6 linked regions of the Homo sapiens genome follow. Changing the gene in region 6 together with the main gene of any one other region gives a genetic interaction. Each region holds a gene or a part of one and is shown on either strand. Other genes may lie near its edges.

Region 1 (3,197 bases), on a different chromosome or scaffold from region 6:
TAATCCCAGCACTTTGGGTGGCTGAGGCAGGCGGATCACCTGAGGTCAGGAGTTCCAGACCAGCCTGACCAACATGGAGAAACCCTGTCTCTACTAAAAATACAAAATTAGCCAGGCATGGTGGCGCATGCCTGTAATCCCAGCTACTCAGAAGGCAGAGGCAGGAGAATTGCTTGAACCCTGGAGGTGGAGGTTGCAGTGAGCTGAGATTGCGCCATTGCACTCCAGCCTGGGCAACAAGAGTGAAACTCCGTCTCAAAAAAAAAAAAAAGAAGAAGAAGAAGAAAGAAAGAAAGAGGGAGAGAGTGAGAGAGAGAAAGAAAGAAAGAAATGCAGGAAGGAAGGAAGAAGGAAAGAAGGAAGGAAGAAAAAAAAAGCGGGGGGGCCTGGTGCAGTGGCCCACGCCTGTAATCCCAACACTTTTGGAGACTGAGGTGGGTGGATCACTTGAGGTCAGGAGTTTGAGACCACCCTGGCTAACATGGTGAAACCCTGTCTCTATTAAAAATACAAAAATTAGCTGGTTGTGGTGGCGTGTGCCTGTAATTCTATTCAGGAGCTATTCAGGAGGTTGAGGCAGGAGAATCGCTTGAACCCAAGGCGGAGGTTGCAGTGAGCCAAGATGACCATACCACTGCACTCCAGCCTGAGCAACAAGACCAAAATTTAGTCACACACACACACACAGAAAAGAAAGAAAGAGAAATTGGGCTTGGTTTTGGCTTCTTACCTCCCACTGTCTAGGCTGAGTTTTCAAGGTTTTCCATCTCAGAGGCTAGTGGAAAGGGCAGAAGGGAGAAAAAAAGCTAGGGGGAGGGGGCAGCTAAGGAGCCTTTCCATGAAGGAAGAAGGTCCTGGAGCCTGACAGTCCCCAGGAGCAGCGACAAGAAGCAGGGGAGGGAGAGGACTGCTGCTGGCTGCTCCACCCCCCACACACATAATGTGGGGTCTCGCGTCTGCCTCTCTCCCGCCCCTAATTAGCAGCTGCCTCCCTCCATATTGTCCCAGGCCAGCGCCTCTTTTGTGCTCCCAGATTCCTGGGTGCAAGGTGGCCTCATTAGTGCCCGGAGACCGCCCCATCTCCAGGGAGCAGATAGACAGACAAGGGGGTGATCAGGGGCACAGTGATCCAACCCTGGCCTCTGAACGCCGCAGCGGCCATTCCTTGGGCCCAGCCTGGAGACGGCCCCCCTGCAGCAGGCTAATCTTAGACTTGCCTTTGTCTGGCCTGGGTGTGGACGCAAGTGCCTGTCAATTCCCCGCCACCTCAGAGCACTATAAACCCCAGACCCCTGGGAGTGGGTCACAATTGACAGCCTCAAGGTTCCTGGCTTTTTGAACCACCACAGACATCTCCTTTCCCGGCTACCCCACCCTGAGCGCCAGACACCATGAACCTTCCTTCCACAAAGGTAAAGATCCAGGGATGGAGGGGTGACTCACCATCCCAGAGAAGCAAAAAGAGTGCTTGCTCAGAGGGCTGGAAGAAAGGCCAAAGGTGTCTCCACTCTTGGTCTTTTCCTGGGTGTGCTCTGAGGCAGGAGCACCTGCCTTGGCTCACATTGGGTTGGGTGCTGTTTTGCTAAGAGCCTGTGTTTGCTGAGCTCTATGTGTCAGGTGCTCCGTTTGCACCTGTCATCTCTTGTCATCCTCCCAACAGCCTTGCAGAGTAGAAATTATTTCTAGTATACCCAGTTTACAGGTAAGGGAGCTGTGCCCTCTGAAAGGGCAGGAAACTGGTTCAAAGCAACGGAGTTCAGTCACTCCTGCAAGGGGGCAGGCAGATGAGAGAGCATTCTGGAGTCTTGCTAGTTCCTGATTTCCATGTGTTTCCCTGCTGTGGAGAGGAAGTTGGGGGGACTCAGTAGGGCCCGGGTTTTTCCCAAGTTTACAACTTCTGCTGCAGACAGACACTCCTGTTTTCAGGTGGAGTGGCAAGTGCCCTAGTGGTGGCACAGTGGCCTAAGTCTCCAGAGAAAAGGGGGATTCACTCTGCCCAGGGGGTCTCAAAAGGCTTCCTGGGGGAGATGCTCTGCTGGGTCTTGAAGGAGGAGCAGGGAAAGTAGGCCGATACCAGCAAGGGCGCAAAGCAAGGAGAACTAAGTGACAGCCAGAAAGGAGTGCAGGCTTGGAGGGGGCGCGGAGCCAGAGGGGCAGGTCCTGGGCGTGGGAGCTGGTGGCGGGCGCCGTGGGAAGACCCCCCCAGCGCCCTGTCTCCGTCTCCCTAGGTCTCCTGGGCCGCCGTGACGCTACTGCTGCTGCTGCTGCTGCTGCCGCCCGCGCTGTTGTCGTCCGGGGCGGCTGCACAGCCCCTGCCCGACTGCTGTCGTCAAAAGACTTGCTCTTGCCGCCTCTACGAGCTGCTGCACGGCGCGGGCAATCACGCGGCCGGCATCCTCACGCTGGGCAAGCGGAGGTCCGGGCCCCCGGGCCTCCAGGGTCGGCTGCAGCGCCTCCTGCAGGCCAGCGGCAACCACGCCGCGGGCATCCTGACCATGGGCCGCCGCGCAGGCGCAGAGCCAGCGCCGCGCCCCTGCCTCGGGCGCCGCTGTTCCGCCCCGGCCGCCGCCTCCGTCGCGCCCGGAGGACAGTCCGGGATCTGAGTCGTTCTTCGGGCCCTGTCCTGGCCCAGGCCTCTGCCCTCTGCCCACCCAGCGTCAGCCCCCAGAAAAAAGGCAATAAAGACGAGTCTCCATTCGTGTGACTGGTCTCTGTTCCTGTGCGGTCGCGTCCTGCCCATCCGGGGTGGCAAAGCGTCTTGCGGAGGACAGCTGGGCCTGGAAGCCCGGCTGTCGGGCACCAGCCTTAGCTTTTGCGTGGTTGAATCGGAAACACTCTTGGTTGGGGAGTTCCCAGTGCAAGGCCCTGGGGCACAGAGAGAACTGCACAGGTGCATGCTTGGATCGGGCCATGCGGGACTCCTACGATGCTCTGCTAGGCATTCTGTAGCGGGGACTTTACCCAGAGACGCGGAAGGGGAAGGAAAGCAAGAAAGGTTGCAGCGGTCGGGCGCGGTGCTCACGCCTGTAATCCCAGCACTTTGGGAGGCCAAAGCAGGAGGATCCCTTGAAGCAAGGAGTTCGAGACGAGCCTAGGCAACATAGTGAGTGAGACATCTCTCCAAAAAGTTTTTTTAATTAGCGGGGTATGGTGGGCGAGAGGATTGCTTGAGCCCAGGAGTTTGAGTTTGAGCCATA
Region 2 (3,500 bases), on a different chromosome or scaffold from region 6:
TTTTTTTGAGACGGAGTTTCATTCTTGTTGCCCAGGCTGGAGTGCAATGGTGTGATCTCAGCTCACAGCAACCTCTGCCTCCTGGGTTCAAGCAATTCTCCCGCCTCAGCCTCCCGAGTAGCTGGGATTATAGGCATGCGCCACCACGCCCGGCTAATTTTGTATATTTAATAGAGACGGGGTTTCACCTTGTTGGTAAGGCTGGTCTCGAACTCCCATCCTCAGGTGATCTGCCCGCCTCAGCCTCCCAAAGTGCTGGGATTACAGGCATGAGCCACTGCACCCGGCCACATCTGCCCATCTCTTACTAGGGCTCCAGGCACAGATCTTGGTTGATCTTTTACACACACTGGGTGGTGATTTCATTGATGCATATCTCCACCAGATTATGAGCTGCCCATCTTTGCCCTCCACACTCCCAGAACACGGTAGGTGTTCAAATATTTGTTGAATGAAGGGGAAAAGGAGTAGAGAAACAAGAGATGGCCATAAAACCTGTGGTGGCTACTTCCCATGACACAGGTGGCAGGTGAGGGCTGCATAGCCACCCATTCATGAGCCATCCAACCCTGAGCTGGCTTTGAAGACAGACTCGGATCCTGCCTCCCAGACCTGGCCTTTTTCTTGTCCTTTGCCAGGGGCTACCTGCGGACATATTTCTTCTCGAGGTGGATGTTCTTATAGTCGACGCCTCCCTCGGGGTCCTGGCCGGGGCTCAGGCTGGGTCCCAGCATGGCCTCAGCCTTCCTTCGCAGAAAGTTGAGCAGGTCGCCATAGCAACAGTACTCCGTGATGACCAGTACAGGGCCTAGAGCAGCCAAGGGTGTGGGGTGAGGGAGGTGCTGAGTGCTCCCCTCCATGAACAGGAGCATGAGACTGGGGGCAGTGAGGCCACTGGACTTGGACTCAGCATAGCTGAGTTCTAACCTCGGCTCTGTGAGCAAGTTTCCTTGTGCCTCAGTAGTTCCATTTGTTTAAAACAGATGGCTTTGGCGGGGCACGGTGGCTCATGCCTGTAATCTCAGCACTTTGGGAGGCCAAGGTGGGTGGATCACGAGGTCAGGAGATCGAGACCATCCTGGCTAACATGGTGAAACCCCATCTCTACAAAAATACAAAAAAATCAGCCGGGCATGGTGGCATGTGCCTGTAGTTCCAACTACTCAGGAGGTTGAGGCAGGAGAATTGCTTGAACCTGGGAGGCAGAGGTTGCAGTGAGCCGAGATCGCACCACTGCACTCCAGCCTGGGTGACAGAGTGAGGCTCCGTCTCAAGAAAAAAAAAACAAAAAATGAAAAAAAAAAGACAACCTTAAAAAAAATGTAGCCCAAGAATTATTTCTTCAAAGGAAAGCTATGGCGGCTCACTGTAGGTCAGAGCTGCTATCAGTGAAGAGGATGTGGGGCACTTGGAGTCCCAGCAAAGCCCGGGGCACCTTTGGGGGCCCTGGGGAGAGTGTCCAAGCATCCTTGAATGGAAGCTTCATAAGAGGTAGGCGGGGGGCTTCACTCCAGACCCAGAGGATCCGGCTCCCTGGAAGCAGGGCCTAGGAGCTTGCACATTCATCTCCTCCTCCAAGGGCTCCGATGCTCCCTATCAGTCTCTCTTTATACCTCAAGCTGCCCGTGCAGCTCCTGACTATTCCAGGAGATGGGCCCAGGAGTTTAAGGGATGCTGTGACCGGGATCCCCCTGACACTTGGAGCAGTAGGATCCTGAGAAGGAGAAGACGGAACAAGGTAGCCCTGGGGCCCTGAGATTCCCCAGAGGCCCCAAGACCTTGGCCCCAGGAACCCCAAGGCCCTTACCTCCATGGGTACAGGCTCCCAGAAGGTTGACGATGTTCTCGTGCTGGCCCAGGTGGCTCATGATCTTCAGCTCGGACATGAGGGCCTCCTTCTCATCAGCATGGGCCGTGGCTGGGAGGAAGAACCACAGTCCCAAAGACAGGGAGAGGGCAGGACAGAGAGCACCACACAGATACATGGGGACCAAATGCAGAGACCCAGGGGAGAAAGCAGGGCATACCCCAAGACCCGGAGTGACCAGAAGCCAAAAGAAGGAGAAGGAAAAATGCAGACACACAGATGGCAGAGAGAGAGAGAGGAGGGATGAGCCTGTCACTGAGCTGGTCTTCAGGTGACAGGAAGCCAAACTGTGGCCAGGCCATGGCCATAGGTGGCCTTTCTGCACCCCCAGACTTTTTGGAGCTCAGTCAGGAGCCCCTTCACAACTAAAGGGTGACCTAGACCTTCTTGGAGCCGGGAGTCAGAGGGTGCCTGGAGCTCACAAGAAAACCCAAGTCCTCACCCCTGAGCTCTGTCCCCCAGGCTTCAACAGGTTGAAATGTGTGTGATGCCTCTTGTGACACCAGGGCCAGCCCACCCCCAGCATCTACCACCCCCCATCCCTTCCCTCATCCCCTCCCCTCACTCACACTTCAGCATCTTCACAGCCACCTTCAGGACAGCATCCTCCTTGCCCAGACCAAAGGCCGTGGCCTCCACCACCTTCCCAAAGGCTCCAGCTCCGAGGGTCTTACCTGCCACGCACACAGGTCCCTTAAGTCCCTGGGCACCAAAGGGCCTCTGTCCAAGGGCCCATGGGCTCCCTGCAACCCCCACAGGCCCTGTGATAGGAAGCTGTGGAGTGATGAGCTGCCATCTCACCAAACTGCAGGTTGTTCCGGGGGAACTCCCACTTCTCGTTGTAAGGCAGCTGCGTGGGGTCGATGAAAGTATAACTGTTGCCCTCATAGCTCTCGATGATCTTCCAGCGGACCTGGTACTTGGGCTTCTGCAGAAGAGGAAGGGAGCACGTGGCAGTCGGGGCTGGCAGGCAGTTCCTGGACCTTGTTTCTGACCCCCAAGAGCAGGGGTGTGGGCAGTCCCAAGGCGCCCAGTGGGAGAAGGCAGGGCAAGGCCTGCTCTGGGCTGAGAGAGGTCGTCTCATGAACATAGCACTGAGAGCATGTTCCTGCTTGACTCTGCCTTGTTGTGTGACCTTCCCTTCTCCAAGCCTGTTTCACTATTTGTGTATTGAAGACCTTGGACAAGACAACCTCTGAGGGCCCTGATATCTCTGATAATCTGGTAATTCCTGAGCCAGGAGGGAGGGTGGAACTTGAGATCTTATCCATCCGTTCATCTGTCCATCCATCTACCCATCCATCCACCCACCCAACCTCCCATCCAAATATATATATATATTTTAATTGTGATAAAACATACATGAAATTTACCATTTCAACCATTTTTAAGTGTATGGTTCAGTAGTATTAAGTAAATTACATTCTACCTTGTGCAACCAGTTTCCAGAGCTCTTTTCATCTTGCAAAACTGAAATTCTGTTCCTGTTAAAAAGCAACTCCCCTTTCCCTCCTCCAGCCCCTGGCAACCATGATTCTGCTGTCTCTGTGAATTGCACTGCTCTAGGCACTGCACCTCAGTGGACTCACACAGCATGTGTCTATTGAGATTGCCTTATTTCACCCAGCATAAT
Region 3 (3,500 bases), on a different chromosome or scaffold from region 6:
TCTCATCACAACTCAGTTCCTTTCTCTCTCATTCTCTCTCTGTCTCCTTCTGTCTTCCCTCCTCTCTTTATCTTGCTCTCCCTCACTTTTCCTCCCTCTTACTTCTCCCTCCCTTTATAACCATCTCCTTCCCTGACACACAAACCTCTCTTTCCCTCTTCTCCCTCTCTCCTGCTCCCTCTTTTTGCATTTTTGCCCAGACTTTCTTTTTGACCTAGGGCACTACTGCATCCAAACACCTACTGATCACCATTCAGGGTTTCAGTTGAGGCACTTTATTATTTTGGTTTTTTACTTTTTTAGAAATGGGTTCTTTCTATATTGCCCAGGTTGATCTTAAACCTGACCTCAAGTGATTATCCCACTTCAGCCTCCTCGGTACTTGGTATCACAAGCGACAGCCACCAGATCTGGCTTGAAACACTTTCTATCACACTTTCTGTACTCCCAGCCATGCTTCTCTTGCTCTCAACTCCATCCTTGCCTATGTGGACTGGGAATGTCTTGTGGGGGACTGTTCCTACTAGGCTGGGAGTACCTGGAAAACACATCCATAGGCAGGGTTCTTTCCAGGTCTCCAGAGCACAGAAAGGTGTGGGAACAGAACTGGCAATGGAAAGGCATGTGGAAGAGTTTGCTGAATGAAGACTGAATGGATGAACGATGCAGGTGTTCTAGACAAAAGATAGATGACTTTTACCCCCAGGTCTCCCTTAGGACTCCCTGGACTGGACCGGAGGGTAGGAATTAGGGAACAGAAGAGTAAACATTCAGGAAGTAAAGATGTTTGAAAAAAATATGATAATTCAGAGTAAACAAGAAAGGAGTGAAGGGAAAATTCATTGACTGAACATGTCTAGATGTCATCGTCTGCCTTCATATATTGTCCTTAGTTCTCTCAGCGGGCTAGGACTCTCTGTCCCAAAAGTCTGAAAACTTTCCCCTGCTAGCCAGGTTGGATACCAAGTTCTGCCTCTGTGCTCTGCTCCTAGTACTACTAAGCAATAATGGAAGAATTGACAAAAACAACTTCTCCCTCCCCACCTGAGCAAACATTCAAGAAGTGAGGATTTTCGAAAAAACTGATATTTCTGGGAGAACAGAAACAGAGTGGAGGGGAAGTTCATTTGCTGAACATGTGCAAAGTAGCATTATCTGTCCTCACACATTGTCACCAATTCTCTTAGCAGCCCGGGTCTTTCGGTCCTAAAGGCCTGCAACTTTTCCCCTGACAGCCAGGCTTGGTATCAAGCCCTGCCTGTGGTCCTCTGCTTTTATACCCACTAAGCAATAGTGGAAGAATCCACAAAACAACTCCTCCACCCCTCCTCACTTGGGGAGCAGAACCAATGATGGGCTCAGGAACAGGCCAGAAGAACTTGCACTCACCATTCAATCTCTTTAGGATCGCGGTCCTTCAGAAGCTCTTGCACCTCCTGTCGGCAGCGCTCCTGGTATTCTGGGTGCCTCGCAAGGTTGTACAGGACCCAGGAGAGGCCACTGGCCGTGGTGTCATGGCCTGAGGAGCAGCCAGGTAAGCTTGGCTTCAGCACCGGAGGGTGGACAGCGCCCAGATATTGAGGCCCTCAGGAGGATGGAGGGAGGGGGAAGATGGGCAGAATGGAGTGATCCAGGGTCCACCCACCCGGATCCTGAGATGGAGGGACCTCTGTCTCCACTGTAGTCCCACACTGGGACCCTCACCTCCAAACATGAAGGTGTCAGCCTCTGCTCTTATATCCTCATCTGACAATGCCTTCCCATCTTCATCCTGAAGAGAAAGCAAGACACACACACACACACACACACACACACACACACACACACACAAATTATACTATCTCTGAGACTCCGGAGTCTAACCTGAGATAATCTCTGAAGCTCTGATCTTCCAGAAACTCAAATGCACTCTGCACGTCTAGATCTCTCTTGTTCACCATCACCAAAGCCCCAACTCCAAGGGCTTCCCCCAGATCCTTTGCCTCCTCTTTGGACCCTGGTGACAGGAATCAATGGTTCTCGAATATTTTCATTTTTCTGCATAATACAGACTTTCAGAGAAAAAGATACTGGCAACCTGGGGTACAGGATATTTGAATGGCAATTTGCCTTGGAGGTTAGAAATTATGTATTGCTCCAAAAATATTTGCTGACATTCTAGAGTGGTAAACCCAGAGAATCTTATCTTTCCAGAAGATATTTGGGTTATAAAACTCTAGAAATTGCCATCTCACAGGAGAGGGGTAGTTTATACGCCAGAACAAAGCATTCTCTCTCTCTCTCTTTCTCTGTCTCTAACTTTCACCCTGTAATAAAGAAGGAGCATATGAGCTAGCTGTCCTATATAAGCTATAATACTCATAATGTGGGGGCCCCTCTCCTTGGTGCAAATTCTTGTGCATTTACAGGTAAAAACATTGTGTTGCCCTAGGAATGGGGAGCCAGCACTACCATCCTACTCCACCTGCTGTTACTGCTGTAAATAATTAATGGGCTGCTGTGATCCAGGGGTTTGGTGCATCTTTTATCATAGATACAGACATAGACAAAGACATAGACATATAGATACACATAAAAATGTGAAAGACTAACACACTAACTTATAAGTTGAATAAAATATCATGCTCCTCACAGTTTCAGAATTAGCAGTGCCCTGTGGGCTGCATGCAATAAAGTCATCTCTAAAACCTATCTGTGACCTTCCCTTTCTCAAGCATCTTCCATGGCTCCCAGTGCCCTTTGGATCAAAACCAATTTATTTCACCTGACATTTGACATGAAGCTCTATTCTCTCACCTAAATTCAGATCATAGAGAAACCTACCTTGCTCAGCAGAAGCACATCAATGAAATCCAAAGTCTTGGACTTGGCTTTGTCTTTGAAAAAATCATCAATACCCTGAGTGGGGAGGGTGCGACGCCGCTCCCGGATGACAGCGTCTGTGAAGTCATGCACCAGGCGGCAGGCCCTGTGGAAGCGCCGCCCGTCATGGGAGAGGTAATACAGAAAGTCCATGTGCTGGAGGATATGCTGGCTTCTTTTCTCTACAAGGGCACTGAGCTCCAAGATGGTGGCAATATATTCACTGGGCCTCCTGCAGAGCAAGGGCAGAAAGGGAGGCAACAATGTAACGTATGCAAAGCCCCAGGAACACCTCCCACCAGCAGCCAGGAGCTACCTCCCATCAGGAAACTGAGTATCTAGAAATAGATGGTCCTAGAGATACATGGTGGGTATCAGTCATGAGACTGACTCTCTAGACTGTCTTCTCTCCCTGCATCCTATCTCTGAGAGAGCTGTCTCCATGCACCTAGGCACCTAGAGTATAGCTTGGACACCATGCTTCTCTCCTCTGTCTCCCATCCAGTATGCAGTACTGATCATTTTCCTTACCAAAACTGTCCACACAACTCAGACTTCATCCTCTTCCAGTTCAGCCCTGCTCCAGCCCCCAGCATAACCAACTCTCTCTCTCTTTCTCTCTCTCTCTCTCTGTCTCT
Region 4 (3,939 bases), on a different chromosome or scaffold from region 6:
TAGAGTCCTTAAACTTGAGAACTGGAGGGACTCAGAGATCTTTAAGGTGCCATGAGGGACAAGGGGGAGGGGGAGACAGGGTAAAAGGACAATTCAGGGAGCTCGAGGATCCTCCCCACATTAACCAGAAGAGCTCTGCTTTTATCGGTTTTATATGTTGAGGTGCCAATAAGTACATTTTTAAAAAAAGGATTCTGCTGCTTTTAGAGTTGCAAAGCAAAAATGCAGACCCTCATTTTACATGTCAGAAAACTGAGGCTCAGAACGGGGAAGAGATCCACCTGATGTCACACAGCAAAACAGCAGCTGAGCTGGGAGAAGAACCCCCAACACCAACCCTCTCCTCCCCACTCCCCAACCCCCGCTGCCTTTCTCCTTCCCCTGTTCTGCTGCAGGGCCAGAATGCAGCACCTTTTCTAGGGTCAGGCAAGGGGAAAGTGACAACCAGAGGGGAGACACATCTCAGCCTATGAGCAGGAGCCTAAATCCCACGTGTGCAGTACAGGAAGTGCCTCTACCAGCTGTTCTGCACACTACAGAAAGACAGCCACCCTGTCACATGGACGGCCGGAGGATGCCCTGACAGCATACCAGCAACACTCTCAGGAACCACAGGGACTAGGCAAATGCGTGCTTATTACTGAAACACATTTGATCCTCACATCCCACATAGGGTACTGTGAAGACCAAAGGGAATACAGACAGAGCAGAATTTTGAAAAGTAGAAATGCCTACATACACATAAGGAGCCACGTGTGTGGGGGCGGGGGGGGGGGGGCGGTTGTTTTAACCACAGATACTGGGCCAGCTTGGGGTAGGCCCAGGGATGTCCACAGCAGCAAGCCGTGCCTCAGGAAGGGAAGTAGTGGAAGCCAGCAGATTACTCCCAAGGCACCCTCCTTACTGCCCCGTGCCTTTGCCTTGTGCTTGGAAACCAGTAACCCCACACGTACAGAGCCTACATATTTGCACAAAGAACTGGAAAAGCTGCTGCACTTTTCGGAGTTGGGGGTGGGCTTGGTTTCCACGTTAATACACTCCCGGGCGGATATATGGTGTCCAGACTCCCCATGCCGAGCGCTGCCTATAAATGAACACTCGCCACACACTGGAGCCTATTCCTGAGGCTGCAGAAAGTACCAGGGCATTTTCTCCAGTTTAAAGTTTATCATTAGGCATCCGCTGTAGAAGAGCTCAGCACACTGGGCTCTGTGAAAGTCACCTTCTGAAGTGCCTGGTGTTGATGGAGACAAACGGTACTTGGTTTCCTTTTTTAACACCTGTCCCTCAACAAACCACATTACTGATGAGGCATCTTTCTGATGTCAGAAGAAATGTCACTTGTTAGAGACAGTAGTACAGAGAACAGGACTGTGGAGTGGGGAGCACTAACTGTGCTTGGGAGGCAGACAGACTTGGGTTTGAGTCCTGACTGAGCCCCTGAGCAGCATGTGACTTGGGGCAAGTTTCCTCATCTGGAAAACAGAGATAATAATATCTACCCAACAAAAGAGAGGATGCAGTGAACTTGTGGCTAAAAAACGGGCTCTTGTAACTTCCTTCTCCTCTTTATCAAACCCTCCAGCAGCAACCCTAGGTGGCCAATCAAGGGATGCCAAAAAACACTCAGCCTCTTTAATTTTGTGCATACCAAAATCCCCTGTTCCTTTTGCAAAATACTTCAAATTTACCAACCAAGATCTGTGTGTAAACGTCCCTCCTTGGATCTTTCCCCTCTATCCATCCTGGACAGAACACCTCGGGAGTCGGATGGTAGGGGTTGAGCTCAGGTGTTCAGCAAGGCCAGCTCTGCAAGGGGATAAGACATGAGGTGGATCCCACCTCACCTGGACCACTGACTCACTGTGTGACCCCCAGAAAGTCACACAACCTCTCTGGGCCTCAAATACCCCTGGAAGCTATGCTTTCATGGACAACAGTAAAAAAGATGGGTAAAGACACCCATCAAAGTCCTGGGGACAAAGAAGTGGGAATGTGACTGCGGTCGGGGTGAAAGAGGACAACTTATAACGTTTATTTTTCTAAAAATTTAACAAACGACTTGAGGCCAAATATGCCACAAATTTTGAAGTCAGCTTTAAATGCAGAGTTAGGTATATTAACACTTTGTACTCTCCCGCATTTTCAGAAACCTTGGATGGCAGCCAACAGATCCTGAGCGCGGGGCCGCATCTTCCCGGTGCGCTGTGGCCCCTAGTCCCCCCCAGACCCTATTCTATCAGAGGGCCACCCCGAGGCTGGGGCGCTGACCGTCCAAGGTCACCGGCGCAGGGGCGGTGTCTGGGGCTCGGGGCGAGAAGGAGGCCCGGCGCGGGGCGGGGCGGGGACGCTCACGCTCAGCCCTGGCCGCAGGCGGCCGTACTGCTCCGACACCCAGAAGCCGCGCCGGTCCTCCAGCGCGATGAAGGGCTGGTCGGGAAAGCGCGCGCGGAACTTCCTGAGGAATCCGCCCTCGAAGTCAGCCAGCACGCCGTCCATGTCCACCAGCACCCGTAGGGCGCGGCCTCCCGCCAGGCCCAGCCCGCCCGCCGCCCCGCGCCGCCCCGCGGGAACCGCCGCGCTGCAGAGCCGCCGCGCACACCAGCCGCCCAGCCGGATCATGGCCCAGCGCGCTGGCCCGTCGTGGGCGCGGGGACCTGGGCCGCGCCGTGCTGCCGGAGCCGGCCAGACATTCCCGCCGCGGAGGAGAAGCCCCCAACGCTGGGGCGCGCGTGGAGCGCGGGACGGGGAGCGGGGCGGGGAGCGCGGGGTGCGGGCGCGCAAGTACCGGCCCCAGAGCGAGGCCGCGGCGCGCGCGGTCCCTAAAGGAACACGCGCCGGCGGAGGCGGAGCCCCGGGGCGGGGCTTCGAGGACGGACAGCGGTAAGCGCCGCGCGCCTCCAGAAGGTCCGCGCTCCCGCGCTGTCGATTTGCGTCTTCTCCGTGGACCCTGGGCCCGGGCTGCCTTCTCCCACTGCACAGACTACCATGGAGGAGCAGTGCAAACCGAGAAGCAGGCCTGTGTCGTTAGACATTTTTGAGCACTAACTGTGTCGAGTGTGAACCAAATAGACAAAGTTCCTGCCATCCTGGAACTTACGTTTTAGAAGGGGATCCAGACAACAGGATGGAGGAACAAAAACAGGGTGCACTCTGAAAGCCTCTCTGCTTTATTTACAGCAAATGTCTGCGGAGAGACTGATAGAACCAATATCTGCTAACATCATACAGCCTTAGTAAAACTGATGATTCTCAGGTAAATATATGAATAAATATTAAGTACCCCTGTATTGCTTTTTTTTTTTTTTTTTTTTGGAGACGGGGTCTTGCTCTGTTACCCAGGGTGGAAGCAGTGGCATGATCTCGGTTCCCTGCAGCCTTGAGTTTCTGGGCCCAAGGGATCGTCCTGCTTCTGCCTCCTGAGTAGCTGGGACCACAGGGGCCTGCCACCACACCCTGGTAATTTTTTTTTTTTTTTTTTTTTTTTTGAGACAGGAGTCTTCCTATGTTGGGCTCAAACGATCCTCCCACCTCAGCCTCCCAAAGTGCTGGGATTACAGGCGTGAGCCACCGCGCCCGGCCTCTTTTCAACTTTTAAGTACAGGGATACATGTGCAGATTTGTTATATAAATTGACTGTCTTGGGGGTTTAGTGTACAGATTATTATTACCCAGGTAATAAGCGTAGTTCCTGATAGGTAGTTTTTCCATCCTCACCCTCCTCCCACTCTCCACCCTCAAGTAGGTCACCGTGTCTGTTGTCCCCATCATTACGTCCATGTTTACTTAATGTTTAGTTCCCGCTTTTAAGTGAGAGCATGAGGTATTTAATTTTCTGTTCCTGTGTTTGCTTAGGATAATTGTCTCCAGCTCCATCCATATGGCTGCAAAAGACATGATCTTATTCTTTTTTTATGACTGTGAAGTATTCTATGGTAT
Region 5 (3,500 bases), on a different chromosome or scaffold from region 6:
GCTTCAGCCTCCCGAGTAGCTGGGATTACAGGGGCTCACCACCACGCCGGGCTAATTTTTGTATTTTTAGTAGAGATGGGGTTTCACCATGTTGGCCAGGCTGGTCTCGAACTCCTGACCTCAGGTGATCCACCCACCTCAGCCTCCCAAAGTGCTGGGATTACGGGTGTGAGCCACCGCGCCCAACTTGCGGGGACCCAAATTTTTACCCGTGTGACTATTTTTACCTACCTGTGGGAAAGCCTTTGCAATGGGTTCAAAATGCTTTATTCTTAGACCTCTCCTCTCCTTTTTTTTGGTGTAATTTTAACTGCTTTGTGTTTGAAAACAACATGGTTTCACCACTGTGGTACAACAGGTTCCATGTACTGAGCACTTAATATGTAGCAGGCACCAGGCTAGTGTTGACTACATACTGTCATCATACGAATTGTCCACTTCTTATAATAGCTCTGTAAAGCAGGTATTTTAAGAAGGAATAAAGAATGATACTACCTTCCTACCCTTGGTTGGTGTGTTGTGTACACTCTTGGCTAGAAAGCATTTTGTGACGCAGAGCACTTTGAAATAAGGGTATGGTGGCTGACGCCTGTAATCTCAACACTTTGGGAGGCCAAGGTGGGTGGATCGCTTGAGTCTCAGGAGTTCCAGACCAGCTGGGGCAACCCTGGGTCTACAAAAAATACAAAAATTAGCTGCGCACGGTGGTACATGCCTGTTGTCCCAGCTACTCAGAAGGCTGAGACAGGAGGATTACTTGAGCCTAGGAGGTTGAGGTTGCAGTGAGCCGTGACTGTGCCACTGCACTCCAGTCTGGGTGACAGAGAGTGAGAGAAAGAGAGAAGAAGAGAGAGGAGAGAGGAGAAAGGAGAGGGGAGAAGGGAGAGAGGAGAGAGGAGAGGGGAGAGGGGAGAGAGGAGAGAGGAGAGAGGAGGGGAGGGGAAGGCAGGGCAAGGCAGGGCAGGGCAGGGCAGGTTAGTGGAGGAGAGGAGAAGAAAGACAAGAAAAGAAAGAAAGAAAGAAAGAAAGAAAGAAAGAAAGAAAGAAAGAAAGAAAGAAAGAAAGAAAGAAAGACAGACAGACAAAGAAAGAAAAGAAAGAAAGAAAGAAGGAAGGAAGGAAGGAAAGAAAGAGAGAAAGAAGAAAGGAAGGAAGGAAGGGAAAGAAAAAGAAAGAAAGAGAAAGAAAGAAAGGAAGAAGGAAGGAAGGAAGAGAAGAGAGAGAAAGAAAGAAAAGAAAAAGAGAGAGAAAGAAAGAAAGAAAAAGAAAAGAAAGAGAAGGAAAGAAAAAGAAAGAAAGAAGGGAGGGAGGGAAGGAAAGAAGGAAGGAAAGGAAGGAGGGAGGCAGGGAGGGAAAAGAAAAGAGAGAAGAGAGAGGGAAGGAGGGAAATAAAGGAGGGAAAGAAAAAGAAAGGAAAGCAAAAAGAAAAGAAAAAAGAGCAAGAATAGAGATGTTCACCTATTCCTGTGTGAGCTCAGCAGTCCCTGGCCTAGTGGAGCTCCTCAGAGGCTGCGCTGAAGCCCTCCCCCAGAGGATGTGCAGGCATCAAAAGCCTTGATATGAGAGGCCTCAGCCGCCACTGAGCTTGTTGGTGCAGGCCCCCAGGGAGTCTGTGTGCTCAGACATGGGGACAAACAGCCATACAAGGAGTGCTCCCGACGGGCTTTGCTGCCGATGCCAGTGTATGAATCTGTAAAGAAGGGATCCATCGTGGGGTTCCCTTTGACCAGAGGGTGGAAAAGATTCAGGGTGAAAGGGGAGCTATGGTATGTCAGGGGACACTCACAGAGATTTCTTGGGAAAATTTAAGGGCTGGATGGTCCCAAATGAGATGGGAAGATTCCTTAGAGAGGAAGGGAATCCTTTTCTGAGCCAAATGGGAAGGAGCATGATGCCCAGGGTGAGACCAGGCTGCAGGGCTGCTCCATGGTTAGGGAGATTAGGGCCACTGCTCTGATGTGGAGAGGACCCATGGGAAGGGCCAAACGGGATTATTTCCACAGAGAGAGGAGCAGTTGGGGAGAGAGATAAGGAGAGAGTAAGTGTGCCTTCGATGATGGAATAGCCCATGCAAAGACGAAGGACAATGAAATACTATTACTTTTATTGCAAAGTCAATGCACTTCACATAAATGAGCTCAAATTATCATTGTCTGCATCCAAAATATATACATTATGGAAGTCAATGGCAGGAGGCTGTCCTGAGGCTCTGCTCTCCCTTCCTCAATCCGCAAGAGTGACTGTACAATGAGAGGTAAATCAGAGGGAAGGATGGAGATGAGAAAGAGTCCAGGCCTTTATCCAGACAGACATGGCTGCGAGGACTTGAGCCCTGGATTCCTCAACTGTAAATGGAAATAGCAATACCTAGGGTTCCACGAGTGTTCAATGATTTTTCTTTTTTTTTTTTGAGAGGGAGTCTCAATCTGTCACCCAGGCTGGAGTGCAGTGGTGTGATCTCAGCTCATTGCAACCTCCGCTTCCTGGGTTCAAGTGATTCTCCTGCCTCAGCCTCCCAAGTAGCTGACATTACAGGTGCTCGCCACCACACCCGGCTAATTTTTATATTTTAGTAGAGATGGGGTTTCACCATGTTGGTCAGGCTGGTCTTAAAACTCCTGAACTCAAACAGTCCTCCTGCCTCAGCCTCCCAAAGTGTTGGGATTACAGGCGTGAGCCACTGCACCCAGCCCAGTGATTACATGTTAAAAAAAGTCCTAGGGTCGCATGACATGGGATTAAGTATAGAAAGCGCCTGGCAAACAGGAGGTGCTCGGCAGATGCCGGCTCCCTCCTCTCCACCCCAGGCTCGTCTTCAGTGTCAGCTGAGGGATTCTGGTTTTGCTACATACGCACAGTCTTTTTGGCTGGCCAAACTGAGGCTGCTCGAAACACTTGCATTTGAACTGTCCAGGCTGCTGCCGAGGTGTAGTTTTCTCATATGTCTGACGACGGCCGTGGCATTAAATGCTTGCTGAAATTTCAGAAAGGAAAAAAGCAGACAAATATTTCAGCTAATCGGAAAAGACTCTAACTGTGTTCTCTTGTTTATCACATTAGCCTAAGCATTTCAAACTCCTTACATCATTCTCATGCTACTCAAGAAGGAAAGCTTATGTTGTCCCTTCTTCTAAAAGTGCACTGATTTATTAACCCCTTTCCCCAACTAAATATTTTAGAGACTTAAAATAGTTTTCTTCTGACATCATAAATACATAGAATAAACATAAACCAATTCTCTCTGTAATTTAAGAGATGTGGCCTTTAGAATAAAAGGCATATTATAATACCTTAAAAATGTGAGATTTGAAAATAGTTTTTATTTTCCTAGTATTGGTACTTTTGTCTGAAAGATTTAGGTTGGTGCAAAAGTAATGGCAATTTTAATGGAAGAAACCACAACTACTTTTGCGCCAACCTAATGATAGCATGTCCTATGAATACAGCAGGCCAGCAAAATTAATTTTGTTTCCGTCTCATCTTTCACCATTGGCCCTCAT
Region 6 (3,978 bases):
CCAATTCCCTGAGATCCTTAAACACCAGGACACTTTCACACCATACTTCTTCCCCCAGAGTTCCCAAGACATGCCCTGGCCCTGGGCTCCCGGGGACAAGTGGTCAGGACAAGCACGGCCCTGGCGAGGGCATTTCCTGGCATCAGGAAAGGGCAGGATGTGGGGCAAAGGTGCCAGTGGATTAGCTCCTGGAGAGGAAGGGGCGGTCCTTTCAAAGGAGGCACCAACAGCAGCTGGCCAGGGGACAGGAGGCAGGTCCTTCACCTCCACTGACCCTTGTGGGGGCTGTAAGGCCAAGCCTGGGGGGGTAAGGACCCCACCTCAGAGCCCTATTGGCTTCCCCAGGCCCTGCCATGCCTTGGAAAAGTCCCTTCCCAAGAGGAGCCCACGGAGGGCACAGTTGTTCTCTGGGGGGTGTCTCACCCTCCTTAGGCACTCAAGGAGGCTGCTCTGTAGCCACTCCTAAGAAGTAGTCCCCATCCCCTCACCCCCAACTCCACCAGCCCTGGGCCTTCCTCACTCCAACGGGCCTCTTTATAGCCACAAATATTCATCCTAGGCCTCCCAATGGACACTAAGGACTGGGCTACTACAAACCGTTGACCCTGAACCGAAGCTTGACCTCATGTCCTGAGCAATTTCAACTCTCTGCCCCAGCCTAGCCCAGCTGAGGTCTCTGCACAGAGTCAAGGTTGCCACCCCCAACGCACTTAATGGCCGAGAGAGCCCTGCTGTCTTCCCCCCCTGCCCCTCCCTGTGCCGCATCTTTCTCCCCTTCACCTCTGAAATTATGTGGGCCCAGTTCAGATGGGGCAGAGGCAGGCCAGCAAGCACCCGAGAAACAGGCCGAAGGACAGACCCAGAGACAGGTGGAAAAGACAGGTAGAGGAAGAGTGGACAGTCAGGTGGACAGGTGGATAGGCAGATGCACAGACAGGCACCCGGATAACTGCACAGGCCACAGATGGATGGAAACAGGCAAGCAGAAGGACTGCGGACAGTTAGGTGGAAGGGTGAGCAGACTGGCCAACTCGCACACAGGTGGAAACTCAGGCTGGCAGAGGGACAGCCAGGCCAGCAGGAGGGCTGCTAGACAGTCAGGTGGGCAGGCAGGTGGGCCACCCAGGAGACCCCAGCGCCAAAGGGCCCTCTCTGGTGGCAGCAAAAAGGGATTAATAGCCACACATTTTCCAGGGACCAGAGGTCTCTCTCTGGGCACCTCTGAGCGTCCCAGCGTCAGGCCCAGCCCTTCAACTGATATCTGCGGGGCCTCTCATGTTCCTGGCTGGGCCAGGCCGTACCCCAAGACTGAGCTCTGAGCTGCCAAAATTCACTCTTCACACCCAAGAGGGGTCAGTGTTTTTGAAAGTTGTAGGAGCCTGGTGAGAGGGAGGAGGGGGCCCCAGCAGCGTCAGTGTTTCCAAACCTACCCCTCTCCTCTTTCTTTTTCCCCTGGTGCCTAGAGCCAGGCCTGGTGCTGCCAGCCAACAAGGCAGGCGAGCTGGGCCAAGCCGGCAGGGTAGGGCAGGGCAGGCAGGGCGGCCGCCGTTGCCACTGGGAAGTTGAGGGTGGAGGGGAAGACTGAGCGAAGACACAGATCAAGTCGGACACAGCATATGCGAGTGTCAGGGCCCAGGGGGCCCACAGGGACCCCCACACACCCACAGTCAGCTGGGCAGGGGTAGGAATGAGGGCCGCCCTGGAGAGGAGCACCCCTGAGGGGAGCCCTTCATAGCTCAGAGCTGGGGAGCAGGTGACAGAAGCGTGTGGGAGCCAAGGGTTCCTCTTTGTGTCTGGGACACAGGGAGGCAGGGGTGGGGAAGAGGAAAAGGGCGCCCACTCCAGGGGCCCCAGACTTCGCCAAGCGGACTTGGGGGAGGCAGCTGGCGGTCGGGAGTACCTGGGACAGAGGAGCAGAGATTGGCGGTCAGGATGGAAATAAGCAGTTGCGGTGCGGGGAGGTCAGAAGCGAGGTCAAGCAGGGGTCAGGCCTGGGAGATCAGGGCTTAGGGTCGGGCTCAGCGAGGGGATCAGAAACCGGGCTTAGGCCTGGGGGGAGAGAGATGAGGGTCGGCCCTGAGGCAGGGGGGTAGAAGGCGGAGCCAGGGCGGGGCGGCCGTGCCCCGGGAGGCCAGGCTTGCGCGGGGAAACGCGGAAGGGCGCGGGGTCGCAAACTCACATGAAGACGTGGTAGACGAAGGCCCAGCCGCGGGGCCGCTCCAGCACGTTGTAGACCCAGTTCTGCAGGCGGCGGTAGCGCTTGTGCGCGGCCGAGGAGCGCTGGCCGCAGGCGGAGCCCGAGCCGGAGCCCGGCCCAGGGAGGGGCGCGCCCGGCGGCAGGGGGCTGCCCAGGAGGCCGAGGCGGCGCGGGGAGCCGCCCCCGCCCGCCTCGCCCTGTTCGCTCTGCACGGCCGTGAGCGCCACTAGCTCCGCGCGGGGGGCGTCCCCGGGCGGGGGACCCAGGCCGAGGCGGCGCGGGGGGGCCTCGGCCATGGGCGGCGCCGGGCTGGGGGCGCCGGGGCCCGGGCACGGTCCGGGGCGGGGGCGCGCTCGGGGCGCTCAGAGACGCATGGCTCGGACCCGGGGCCAGAGGGGCGACCCGGGGCGGGCGCGGGCGGCGGGGGCTAGGGGCCGGGCCGGGGCCGCGGGCGGGCGCTCGGAGCCTGGGGGCCGCCGGAGCCCGCACTGACCTCCCGCTTCCCCGGCGACTGGGGCTGCTCTTTCCGACTCCAACTCTCTTATTACGCGCTCCATGCCGCTCGCCTTTCCACCTGCCACCGGCGCGCGCCGCTCACATGTCACCCTCCCCCGCCCCGCCCCTCCCCCGCCCGCCCCGCGGCCGCCTTCCCAAATCGGGAGGGAGCGAGCGAGCAAGCGAGGCGAGGCGGAGGGAGGGAACGCGCGGAGCAGGCGGCGGGGCAGGGCGCACGGGCGGCCGAGTTGGTGCCTGGGCCGAACCGCGTGGCGGGGGCAGCGCGCGGGGCCGGGAAGCCGGACGCGTGCAAGTGGTGTCCACCGCTGCGTGGGGCAGTGTGGCCCCGAAGGCCAGCCCGGGGTGGGACGCCTCGTGTGTGCTTGTGGAAAGTGGAATGTGGAGTTGTGGCCGCGGGCGGCAGGGGAAGGGACGCAGTGTCCCGTGGAGTTTAGGTGTAGACCGGTGGAACGGCGTCTACTTGTGTGTGCAGGGTGGGTGGCTGTGGGTCTACCAGGTGCGGGGATGGAGTCAGTGAGGTGTGAGTTATGGGTCGGGTGTGGGTGGCTGCGAAAGTGGAGGTGGAGTCCGAAGGGGATGAGGTGTGTCCGTTGGGGTCGAGCACTGTGTGCCTGGTGCGGGTGCTTAAAGTGTGCCCAGTGCTGTGTGTGGCTGGGTGGGCAGCGGCGGTTGTCCTGCTCTTACCTGAAAGGCCTGGAGCCCACGGGCTGCTAGGCAGCATCAGGGTGTGTGGAACACAGTGGGCCTGGGTGTGTCTTTCTCCCACCAACTGCCACCTCTGAGCTTCCCTTCATCGTGATGGGGGAAGAGCCACCCTGCCCAGAAGAGGATCCTCCCCGATGGAGGGGCCTGCTCCCCTGCCCCACTCCCAGGTCAGGGAACTGGGTTTGGGCAGATGGAGTGTTGGGAGATGAGCTCTAAGCCAGCCTTAGAGGGGACACACACCCCCTACCCAAGGCCCACAGAATCCCAGCCAGAAAAGGGGATACTTTGTCCCAGGGCATTCCCTCTCCAGCTGGAAAGTTTTTCTTAGTCCCCGACCTCCATCTCTCTGGCTGTAGGGGGCAGTCCCTCTCCTTTAGCCCTCCTGGGCCCTGCACAGGGTTGGTAACTTGGGTTTCCCGATCCTCTTTCCCTCTTCCTCCACGGAAAGCTGCGGCCACACCAGCCGCTCCCTCCGCAGGCCCTGCCCCAGGGTGAGCCTTCCGCAGCAAACTCTTCCCGGTTCCTCCGGGAGGATCTCGAGGGACGAAGCCGAGCGGGAG

What was found.
Region 1: changes in KCNQ4 (region 6) and HCRT together harm fitness more than expected from each alone (negative genetic interaction), as found in Homo sapiens cells (one large-scale study listed by BioGRID).
Region 2: changes in KCNQ4 (region 6) and CSF1R together harm fitness less than expected from each alone (positive genetic interaction), as found in Homo sapiens cells (one large-scale study listed by BioGRID).
Region 3: changes in KCNQ4 (region 6) and CYP4F12 together harm fitness more than expected from each alone (negative genetic interaction), as found in Homo sapiens cells (one large-scale study listed by BioGRID).
Region 4: changes in KCNQ4 (region 6) and NT5M together harm fitness more than expected from each alone (negative genetic interaction), as found in Homo sapiens cells (one large-scale study listed by BioGRID).
Region 5: changes in KCNQ4 (region 6) and CAMK1D together harm fitness less than expected from each alone (positive genetic interaction), as found in Homo sapiens cells (one large-scale study listed by BioGRID).

What each region holds. Positions count from the first base shown.
Region 1 is NC_000017.11:42,183,560-42,186,756, reverse strand, and holds HCRT (hypocretin neuropeptide precursor precursor), read left to right. Parts: upstream 1-1,304; 5' UTR 1,305-1,391; coding exon 1,392-1,412; intron 1,413-2,228; coding exon 2,229-2,603; 3' UTR 2,604-2,697; downstream 2,698-3,197. UniProt on the Homo sapiens protein: Neuropeptides that play a significant role in the regulation of food intake and sleep-wakefulness, possibly by coordinating the complex behavioral and physiologic responses of these complementary homeostatic functions.
Region 2 is NC_000005.10:150,059,055-150,062,554, forward strand, and holds part of CSF1R (macrophage colony-stimulating factor 1 receptor isoform a precursor), read right to left. Parts: intron 2,796-3,500; coding exon 2,669-2,795; intron 2,542-2,668; coding exon 2,437-2,541; intron 1,919-2,436; coding exon 1,808-1,918; intron 809-1,807; coding exon 646-808; intron 1-645. UniProt on the Homo sapiens protein: Tyrosine-protein kinase that acts as a cell-surface receptor for CSF1 and IL34 and plays an essential role in the regulation of survival, proliferation and differentiation of hematopoietic precursor cells, especially mononuclear phagocytes, such as macrophages and monocytes.
Region 3 is NC_000019.10:15,683,087-15,686,586, reverse strand, and holds part of CYP4F12 (cytochrome P450 4F12), read right to left. Parts: intron 3,095-3,500; coding exon 2,824-3,094; intron 1,772-2,823; coding exon 1,705-1,771; intron 1,520-1,704; coding exon 1,390-1,519; intron 1-1,389. UniProt on the Homo sapiens protein: A cytochrome P450 monooxygenase involved in the metabolism of endogenous polyunsaturated fatty acids (PUFAs).
Region 4 is NC_000017.11:17,302,234-17,306,172, reverse strand, and holds the start of NT5M (5'(3')-deoxyribonucleotidase, mitochondrial isoform 4 precursor), read right to left. Parts: upstream 2,801-3,939; 5' UTR 2,623-2,800; coding exon 2,356-2,622; intron 2,325-2,355; exon of another isoform or gene 2,272-2,324; intron 1,810-2,271; exon of another isoform or gene 1,696-1,809; intron 1-1,695. UniProt on the Homo sapiens protein: Dephosphorylates specifically the 5' and 2'(3')-phosphates of uracil and thymine deoxyribonucleotides, and so protects mitochondrial DNA replication from excess dTTP. Has only marginal activity towards dIMP and dGMP.
Region 5 is NC_000010.11:12,825,047-12,828,546, reverse strand, and holds part of CAMK1D (calcium/calmodulin-dependent protein kinase type 1D), read right to left. Parts: intron 2,975-3,500; coding exon 2,857-2,974; coding exon of another isoform or gene 2,822-2,856; exon of another isoform or gene 2,083-2,821; intron 1-2,082. UniProt on the Homo sapiens protein: Calcium/calmodulin-dependent protein kinase that operates in the calcium-triggered CaMKK-CaMK1 signaling cascade and, upon calcium influx, activates CREB-dependent gene transcription, regulates calcium-mediated granulocyte function and respiratory burst and promotes basal dendritic growth of hippocampal neurons.
Region 6 is NC_000001.11:40,782,609-40,786,586, reverse strand, and holds the start of KCNQ4 (potassium voltage-gated channel subfamily KQT member 4), read right to left. Parts: upstream 2,801-3,978; 5' UTR 2,494-2,800; coding exon 2,180-2,493; intron 1-2,179. UniProt on the Homo sapiens protein: Pore-forming subunit of the voltage-gated potassium (Kv) channel involved in the regulation of sensory cells excitability in the cochlea. KCNQ4/Kv7.4 channel is composed of 4 pore-forming subunits assembled as tetramers.